Regions from separate parts of the Homo sapiens genome. Here region 1 is linked to region 2. Evidence: fine-mapped expression QTL. A gene starts in region 2. The other region holds a variant in brackets. All regions are shown on one strand. Distances are between the middles of the regions. Region 1 overlaps PTPRO (protein tyrosine phosphatase receptor type O). Region 2 holds the start of PTPRO (protein tyrosine phosphatase receptor type O).

Evidence for each region. PIP is the estimated chance that this variant, and not a neighbour inherited with it, causes the effect.
Region 1: its variant is fine-mapped to the expression of PTPRO in whole blood (TOPMed, PIP above 0.99).

Annotation. Positions count from the first base shown.
Region 1 is chr12:15,544,265-15,548,663 of GRCh38, reverse strand. PTPRO (protein tyrosine phosphatase receptor type O) reads right to left here. Exons shown (of 27, transcript NM_030667.3): 13 at 1,956-2,095. The region is part of intron 1 of LOC105369672 (a long non-coding RNA gene); the gene reads left to right. Among named protein-coding and RNA genes, the nearest start is that of PTPRO, 220 kb to the right of the region's middle. The variant G/T (reference allele first, on the strand shown) is at 2,100.
Region 2 is chr12:15,319,698-15,324,096 of GRCh38, reverse strand. It overlaps PTPRO (protein tyrosine phosphatase receptor type O), which reads right to left and starts at 1,589. Exons shown (of 27, transcript NM_030667.3): 1 at 1,296-1,589. The coding sequence starts at 1,370. The region is part of intron 2 of LOC105369673 (a long non-coding RNA gene); the gene reads left to right.

The sequences.
Region 1 (4,399 bases), 220 kb before region 2:
GAGCCCCGGTTGATGAATGTGTAAATGGTCTCTGATTTTTTGCTATTGCAAACAATGCTACAATGAACTTCATTTCACAAATTTGGGAAGACACACACATATGCATATAGACACACACACACACACACACACACATATATATACACACATATATACACACAATATATGCATGTAATATGTATATATGTGTGAACGTACACACATACACATATACTCATATATTCTTTGCTAGTGTCACATTCTTTGAACTGCTGAGTCAAAAAGTGTACATTTAAAATTTTGAAAGCTATAGAAAAATAGTTCTCTACAGACATTTTGCAAGTTACTCACCTTTGGCATCAATGCGTGACAATGCCTGCCTCCCTACATTCTTTCCAGTACCATACATTTGCAAACTCTGAGCTTTCCCATTATTACTAGTGAAAATTGTATATTGTAGTTTTATTTTGCATTTTTTTTTTACCGTAAGTGAGGTTGCTGAAGTTTTCATCTGTTCAAGAGATTTCTGTATTTTTCTATGAAATATTTGTTTTGGGTTGTTGACCTTTACCTTTTTTGACTTGTAGCAATTCTTTATATATTAAGGACACTACACCTTTGTCTGCATTCTTAGCTTTTATATAACATCCACTAAAACATGGCAACTATCCGCACTAAGAAACATTTAGTATTAACTTATTCTTGAGTCAAAGAAGTTGCTAACTTGGTGGACCCATGGCCAGACTAGTGACAAGTACTACTGTACAACAGCAAAAGATGAGCCAGCATTTTTTTCAAAACAAGATTTTGAAACACCCTTGCATAAAGAAATGAGAGCCATCAGCATTTTCTTCCACTTCCTTCTCTTTCACTATTCTATAAAAGAATTATTCTAAGGAAAGACTTTTGCTAACAGGACTCAGTTGTAGTAAGTAGCTAACTAACCATTGTTTTCTTAAAGGAAGGCATCACTGTAGTTATAGAGAAGAAAATCCATTATTGGCAGAGCAGTTATTTTCCAAAAGGATTCTTAGAATAGAGAAAATTCAGCTGTTCAGTACAAATCAACAAGAGATACATTCATAGAAGGGAATCTCAAAAGGAGAAAGGAATCAAAGCAAATTATCTTAGCATTCAATATGAAAAGATTTGCACTCCCAGCATTCCTTTTTTCTTCTCAATCTCATGAACTTCATTATTTAAAAAAGATCAATTACTTATGTTCGCAGTATTAGTCTACACACTATATTATGTAAAATCCCTAACAAATCTGTCCTTTTCCTTTCACTTCTGGCTGTGAAATATTTTTTCCTTGTGGCGTTGCCACTCATAGAACTGCAGGTTCATCTCTTTCCTTTCATTCATTCTGACCTGGTGAATAACTCTGTTTATCGTATCTGCCATTTGTAATTCTAGAGCTTTAGCAATAACCTTCTCTCAGTCTTCATTTTGCAATAAGACTGTCCCCCTTACAAACTAGATATGCACGTTTCTTTTAAATTCTCTTGGTCGAATGGACCTGTCTTGTGGTACTTATATTTTACTTTACTTTTTTCTATACTTATGCAATGTCTACACCATATAAAAATGTTTTGAAGGCAAATATTGATTCTATCATGTGTGTTCTATTCAGTGCCTTTATATACTTGGCAAATGGTTCATATTTGTTAAATTATATTTTATATTGTAGGGTCTTTCTTCCCTTGATCAATTCAATGGCCTACTACCTTTATTCCTTTGTCTGACCTGGAGTGACTTATGAATTAGGAACAAGTGATACAGACAAAGATAAAAGTTCTCATAACAACTTTTGGGCTTGGTCTAAGCCTGCTGTTAATTTCTATCAGTGAAACACAAAAGAGCAAATAAACAGTTTTCATTTTATATAGCTCAAAGAAATAGAAGATTCTTATTTTGCCCAGATAATTAGCCTTACTTAAGTTAACTGAGAAAAGGTAGATCAAAAGGTACAGTACCTGAAGTTTGGTTTTCTGACTGGAGCCAACTTGTTGACAGAAAACTTCAAAGAAATCAGCTACTCCCTCTTCCACCCACAGCAAAGTCACTGAAGTCTGGGTTTTGTTCACTGCGAAGAGTGATTTGGGTGGAGCTGGTTCTGA[G/T]CAAAGACAAAGTTTTAAAAAAAATTTAATTTACTAAGTGTATTCTTTCTTCTTTCACTAATAAGCAGGTGAAGCATCCCCCAATTCAAATATAGGTAGGTAAGAGCACCATAAAGACTTTATATTGCCTTTGAAATATGTCCTTTCATAAAGATAGCTATCTAACTTGGAAGGCAGAATACTTTGCCTTTTCCCCCTTCCATTTTTTTACTTCTCTTTTCAGAACACTTCTGTTTTCTACTTCAGTTTCATCATAGTCATAATCTATTAATAGTTTCTGTGTCATTTATACTGAAGTTAGCATTGCCCTGATAATACAGAACTTCCTGGATGAGAAACAAAAATCTGCACTTAATAAAGGTGGAGAAAAATGAAATTTGGTGTGCTTCCTTCTAATGATGAGATGCAGTTTGGTATTTAGCCAACAACCTGTCTTCCTTTCTCTGGAAACTATCTGGAACAATTCAGACAGAAAAATGGCTGCTTGAAAATTTAGTCAAAATTTAAAAAGATAAAGCTAAACAGATAGTATCATTTTTTTTTTTTTTTGAGGCGGGGGTCTCACTCTGTCACCCAGGCTGGAGTGCAGTAGTGCGAACACAGCTCACTGAAGCCTCATCTTCCCTGGCTCAAGTGATCCTCCTGCCTCGACTCCCAAGTAACTGGGACTACCTGGCTTATTTTTGCATTTTTTGCAGAGATGGAGTTTTGCCATGTTGCTCAAGTTGGTCTCAAACTCCTGGGCTCCAGCAATCCACCCACTTTGGCCTCCCAAAGTATTGGGATTACAGGTGTGAGCCACCGTGCCTGGCTGATAATATAATTTTTTAAGAAAAGAATTGATAGGAGGGGATTGGAAGATTAATAAAACATTAGATAAATTTTTTATCTTAGACATTTTATCTTAATAATAAATAAATCCATTCGTAAAGGAAGCTGTGTTGTCTGTCCTTTTCATACTTATTTCTAGTAATTGAGTCACTGGCATTGCTCTCTTGAGACCAAAAAACCCTGCCTGTTCCTCAATTCTAATAGTCATCTGCTGTCTCATTCTCCATTCCTGAATGTCTCCTGGTCTTCTGCTTGTGACCCTGTCTTTTGGATGTTGTCTTTCCCTCTAGGTCCCCCAGTATGCAGAGTGCTGTGCCTGAACTCAAGGTTTTAAGCTGGGGTCCCTGTTACCTGCTCTCAGACCCCCTGACATTGCTTATTTGGACATATTGTACCTTGCTGCTAGGTTCACATAACAGCATCCTCCATCCACCTATATGCGCCTGTCAGACGACTACCCACTGTTGTAGGTTTCTTCCTGCTTGTTACTTGGATTTTTCATTTTCTGCCCCACTCTCCTAAGTCTGTTCTCCAGCTCCTGTCCTTTAGAGGTGCTTGAAAAAGTCCTGTCAGCCATTTCACTGCTTTGACAGGTACACATCTTTGTGTGGAAAGATTTGAACCTTGTTTCTAGAATATCATCATTGTGACTCTGCCCAGGACCAAGAAGTATGTCAAAATCATTCTTGCCATGATTTATCACAGATCTCCTAAACTTGTGTCCAACTAAAAAGAAGCATGTTTCTTTCCTGCAGCAACTTGACAAGGTTAGGCAGAAGAGTTGAAGGAGGAAAGAGATGAGTTCTTCTTAGGCAAGCAAAATTCACAATAGGTGTCAGGAGCCCTTTTTCACTTGCAATGAATTGTCCAGTCCTCCAGGCATTGTATTGTCCCACTTCTGCTCTGAGGAAGACTGCTAATGAAACACAGAGGTCAATTTCCACTTCTCACTTCCTTTATAACTGCCTTTGCTAATAGGATTATGTCCTTTAGGGATTCTGACTCATGTGGAACTTGAATCTATAGAACCAAGTGTGAAGTTGTTTGGGGGCATAGATGAATGATTAGTTAGGCTGAGCCTAGGCTTTTCTTTTTTAAAAATGCACACTACAGAATTGTTCCTCAGTCACAATTCTGAGGCTCTTCCCTTATTTCTCAGTCCCAGAGAGCATATCTTTTAAAAACTCGTTACCTTTTCCTTTAATCTTTTTTTTTTTTTTTTTTTTTGAGATGGAGTCTCGCTCTGTCACCAGGCTGGAGTGCAGTGGTGGTGCAATCTCGGCTCACTGCAACCTCTGCCTCCCGGGTTCAAAAAATTCTCCTGCCTCAGCCTCCTGAGTAGCTGAGACTACAGGCGCATGCCACCATGCCCAGCTAATTTTTTTGTATTTTTAGTAGAGACAGGGTTTCACCATGTTGGCCAGGATGGTCTCGATCTCCTGACCTTGTGATCTGCCTGCCTCTGCCTC
Region 2 (4,399 bases):
AACCTCCTACAGTAAAAACATATAACTGAGCTTATTATTTACCATACTTTAAAATTAATGATTATTGATAATTTAAGAAAAAATGTTAAAACATATTAAATATATTTTAAGGTCTTACTTAGGCATTCTGTTGCTGTTTCTCCCTGAATTTTTTTTATATTTTTCATTAAGATAAATGAAAATATGGAGTATTTAAAAGTAATGCTGTTCTTAATCCATTGGTCCTGTTCCATTATATTCTTTTTAGGCATTCATAATTAATGGTGCATATAAGCAAGAAGTGACTCTATAATAAGAAAACCTTTGGATCCATTAACCTGGCATCCATTTCTAGGGAAGGTATCACTGTGGTCCTGAAAGGATAGCTCCAAGTCACCTGTCGACATTCTTGAGTTTGCTTTGCGGAGAGAGGAAAAGACTAACAACAGAACTAAAGTAGATCCACTGAAGACATGAGTGATAGACAATCACTTCAGAACTTCACATCGCCGTCCAAGAAAACATCTAGCTGACATTTCTTCAAAAAAATTTATGTACAGTATAGTTGTCAAACTGATTTTTCAAAAGCAACTCCTTTGCTTTTCATTTTTCTCAAAGTAAAACCTCAGGGTAGCACATTCCAAAGAAGATACGAAAAAGTTTATTATTATATATTTTTCCACCATTAAATCTAGGGGTAATATCATCTGTAAATATAGTGGAGAAAGTCTGGAGACTTTTTAAAAGGAATTGTAAAGATGTTGATAGGAGTTGGGGAGAGGAATCCTTACCAAGCTCTCTACCTGACACTCCTTATTCAAAGAAAATTCTGCCCTAACGTAGCCCTGGCAGTCCATTTGTGTCCAGGGAGCTCAGTCCCCCTCCACTCTCCAGTGTATAATTCCAGCAGTAAGGAAAATTAAGACAAAGCATTCTGTGCGAGGGAGGGCGGAAAGGTTAAGCAGCGTTGGGGTGCAGTGGAAACCAGAAAAGAAAGTGACCTCATTTTGCCTGAGAAAGCACGATCCAACAAGCCCACCTTTGATGTGGATTTCAGCAGCGATAAAAGAGCACAAAGGGCGAAAGCCGGAGGGAGCAAACTTCCCTTATTCTTCCCCCCGCCCCCTACCTCTCAAGACCACCAGGAACACGCACACGCGAGGACAACAAAGCGTGCGCCCAGGCTGCACGGCAGGCGCTTCCCGCGGCTGGGCCATCGTGCCCTGGGGCGCGCCGCTCCCAACGGCAGAGCGAGGGCGCCGGAGCGCGGCTGCCGCCCGGACCGCTGGGAAAAAGGGGTGGAGGAGCTCCCCTACCTTGAACAGCACAAAGAGCCAGAGCAGAGGCAGGAGGCGGCGGGCGCCGTGTATCCCCGTGGGCAGGTGCCCCATCGCTGCGCGGACGGGGACTCGGGGGCACGGCTGCGCTAGCGGACTCCCCCGGCGGCGGCTCACAATGGCGAACTGGGGCTGCAGCCTCAGACCCTGGGCGCCGAGGTTGCTCCTGGCGAGCGCATGCTGCCTTTCCAGTCCCCCTGCGCCTGCTCCCTTTCCTCCTCTGCGCCCGGGGTCCTCCAAGAACGTGCCAGGCGCTGCTGTTCTTTAATGACTAAGGATGGAGAGGGTGGGGATTGGAGTGGGCGAGGCTCTGCCGCCGCCACCACCGCGGCTGCCAGAGGAGGCGCGGGGTCTGTGTGGTGAGCGAGAGGCGGGGACCCCGCGCCCAGCCCGCCGTAGTCCTCTGGCAGCAGGGACACTCTCACTCTGGCTGCCGACCCATAAAATGACAGCAGCCTCCCAACCCTCCACCAGGATCGGCCCGCTGCTTGCTACTGCTGGACAGCCCCCATTGCAGACTCCGCCTCAACCCCTCCCTCAATCTCTGGGTCTCAGGAGTTCTGAGGGGTTTCCCTGACCTCTCTTGAGCAATCCAGGCGCCAGATCCCAGTTCCCTCTCAATCTTCCTACATCTGTACTCAATTGCAGTTATAAAGGATCAATAACAGTTGGGTAGTTGTGACTGTAGAAATAGTGTGTAGTGTGAGTGTGTGAGTGTGTGTGATAGGAAGGGTATTTTCTCTCCTTCCCCACTGCTTCCATTATCTCCATCCCATTTCAACACTCTCACCGTCTCCGTCCCACACTCACCCAGGAACAAATAGCACAATTATGCACCTTTTCCATTTGAAATCCGCAGTTCTTGTACATTTCAGATTCTCTTTTGATACCAAAGTGTGTCGGGTCACCTGAAGCTGAATATAGAAGGGGGAAAAATCACAGTATTTTACATGTATGACCCTTGAACAACACGGGTTTGAACTGTTGGGTCCAGTTATATGCAGATTTTCTTCCACCTTTGCCAGCCTTGAGACAGCAAGACCAAACCCTCTTCCTCCTCCTCTGCCTGCTCAGCCTGAAAAGGATGACGTTAAAGACTTTTATGATAATTCACTTCCACTCAATGAATATAAATGTATTTTCTCCTCTTTATGGTTTTCTTAATAATATTTTCTGTTCTCTAGCGTACTTTATTGTAAGAATACAGTATACAATACATACAACACAAAATGTGTGTTAATCAACTGTTTATTATGTTATCAGTAAGGTTTCCGGTCAAGAGTAGGCTATTAGTAGTTAAGGTTTTGATGAGTTCAAAGTTATATGTGGATTTTCAACTACGTGATTCTCTGTGTTGTCCAAGTGTCAACGGTATGTACAGTTATATTTTTAAACAATTATCTGTGAATAATTTTACTGGGATGTTTTAGAATCACAAGCAACGACTTTCAAGCTGTGGGTCCCCAATCTACTACTTGTCTCCTTTTTTGTTATGTGTATTTTTTTAAAGATAAGTCTGTCGAAATCAACTCTGGTATGCACTGTTCAGATAGAAATCATTTCTTATTGTCATGTAAATTACCCTTGCTGTGCCCTGTCAGTATTGGAACTTATTTATACCTGAGACATGCTTGGGCAACAGGAGACAGGAAAGGCCACCCTGGTCATGAATGTAGGTGTTCAGGCATAGACTTTGTCAGTCACACAGCTAGGGAGTGGTGGCCTGAGAAAAGGATCCAGAGCTGTGTTTACTCAGCTTTTGCTGCATGAGCAATGGCCAAACACTAATCATTTGGTTGTTGTTTGTATGTGTCTTAAGGAAGCTTTAGATTGAATATGTTTACATAAGTGTGAATATGTATATATACACATGTGTACATGTACACATATGTGTACATGTACATATGTGTACACACATGTGTGTGCATGTACATATGTGTACACATATGTGTGTGCATGTACATATGTGTGTACACATATGTGTATGTGTGTACATAGATACATATGTGTATGCATACGTATATGTATATGTACGCATATGTATATGCATGGTACATATATGTATATATGTACCAAATTTCATATGCATGAAATATGTACCAAAATTCATATGCATGAAAATATAGAATGATGGTCTGAATTTTTGTGAGAATATTATCCTTGGTGTCTTCTTTTAGAAGCTTCTTTTGTTTTCACATTCCCATCACATGCTCTCTTCAGGTCCCTCATGTCCACTCATCATTGGTTTGGACATTTTCTTTCTTTTGAGAAAATGTTAACTGCTCCTCCCTCCCTCTGGGTTAGACTTACGGGCTATCTGAACATTTAATCCTTGGGATTGCACTTATAGGAACTTTGGTTTAATATGTTTTCTTTTTATTTTGACGCTCCTGAAGCAGCATTTTATTCCCACTCGCCCTCAGAAGTGGCTGTAAAGTGATCTAATCTCTAGAACATAAGATATATATAGGCCAAGGGCAACAATCACACTCACAGGATGCCAACAATTTCTCTTTGGAGTAGCATTTAATTTTAAAATGTGTCTGTGAATTATGGGTCTGTATGATGATATTCATTTGTGTGTATGCATATGTCTGTGTGTATACATGGATATAGCCTTGCCTGATGTGCGTAGGGCGTTTAAAGCAGTTCTGATCATAAATTAATCTTGTAAATGCTAAAAGAACTTTCACAATGAGGCTCCCTTTTAAATAATCATATTCTGCTGCGTCTTTCTGTTTTTCTCTTAGTCATACATCACAATTTGTTCAGCTCTTTCTGTCTTTGTGCATATATATATATATGTATATATATATATATATATATATATATTATGTGGACCACTTTGGAGGAACAATAACAGTAAACAGTAAGTAGTAAAGCATTAGTAATTGGCATTGTTGTTATTTTATTAGTAACATTGTGGTTAGATGGGCTGAAGACTGAAAGTATTATTTTATAATCACAGAAAATTTCCTCTCTAGAGAAAAGTATTTTACATTGCTATTGCTGGATAAAATACTTTCATTTGTTTTTATTGCACTTAAACCATAACAGTGTCCTAGAAGAGATTCTCATAAAGA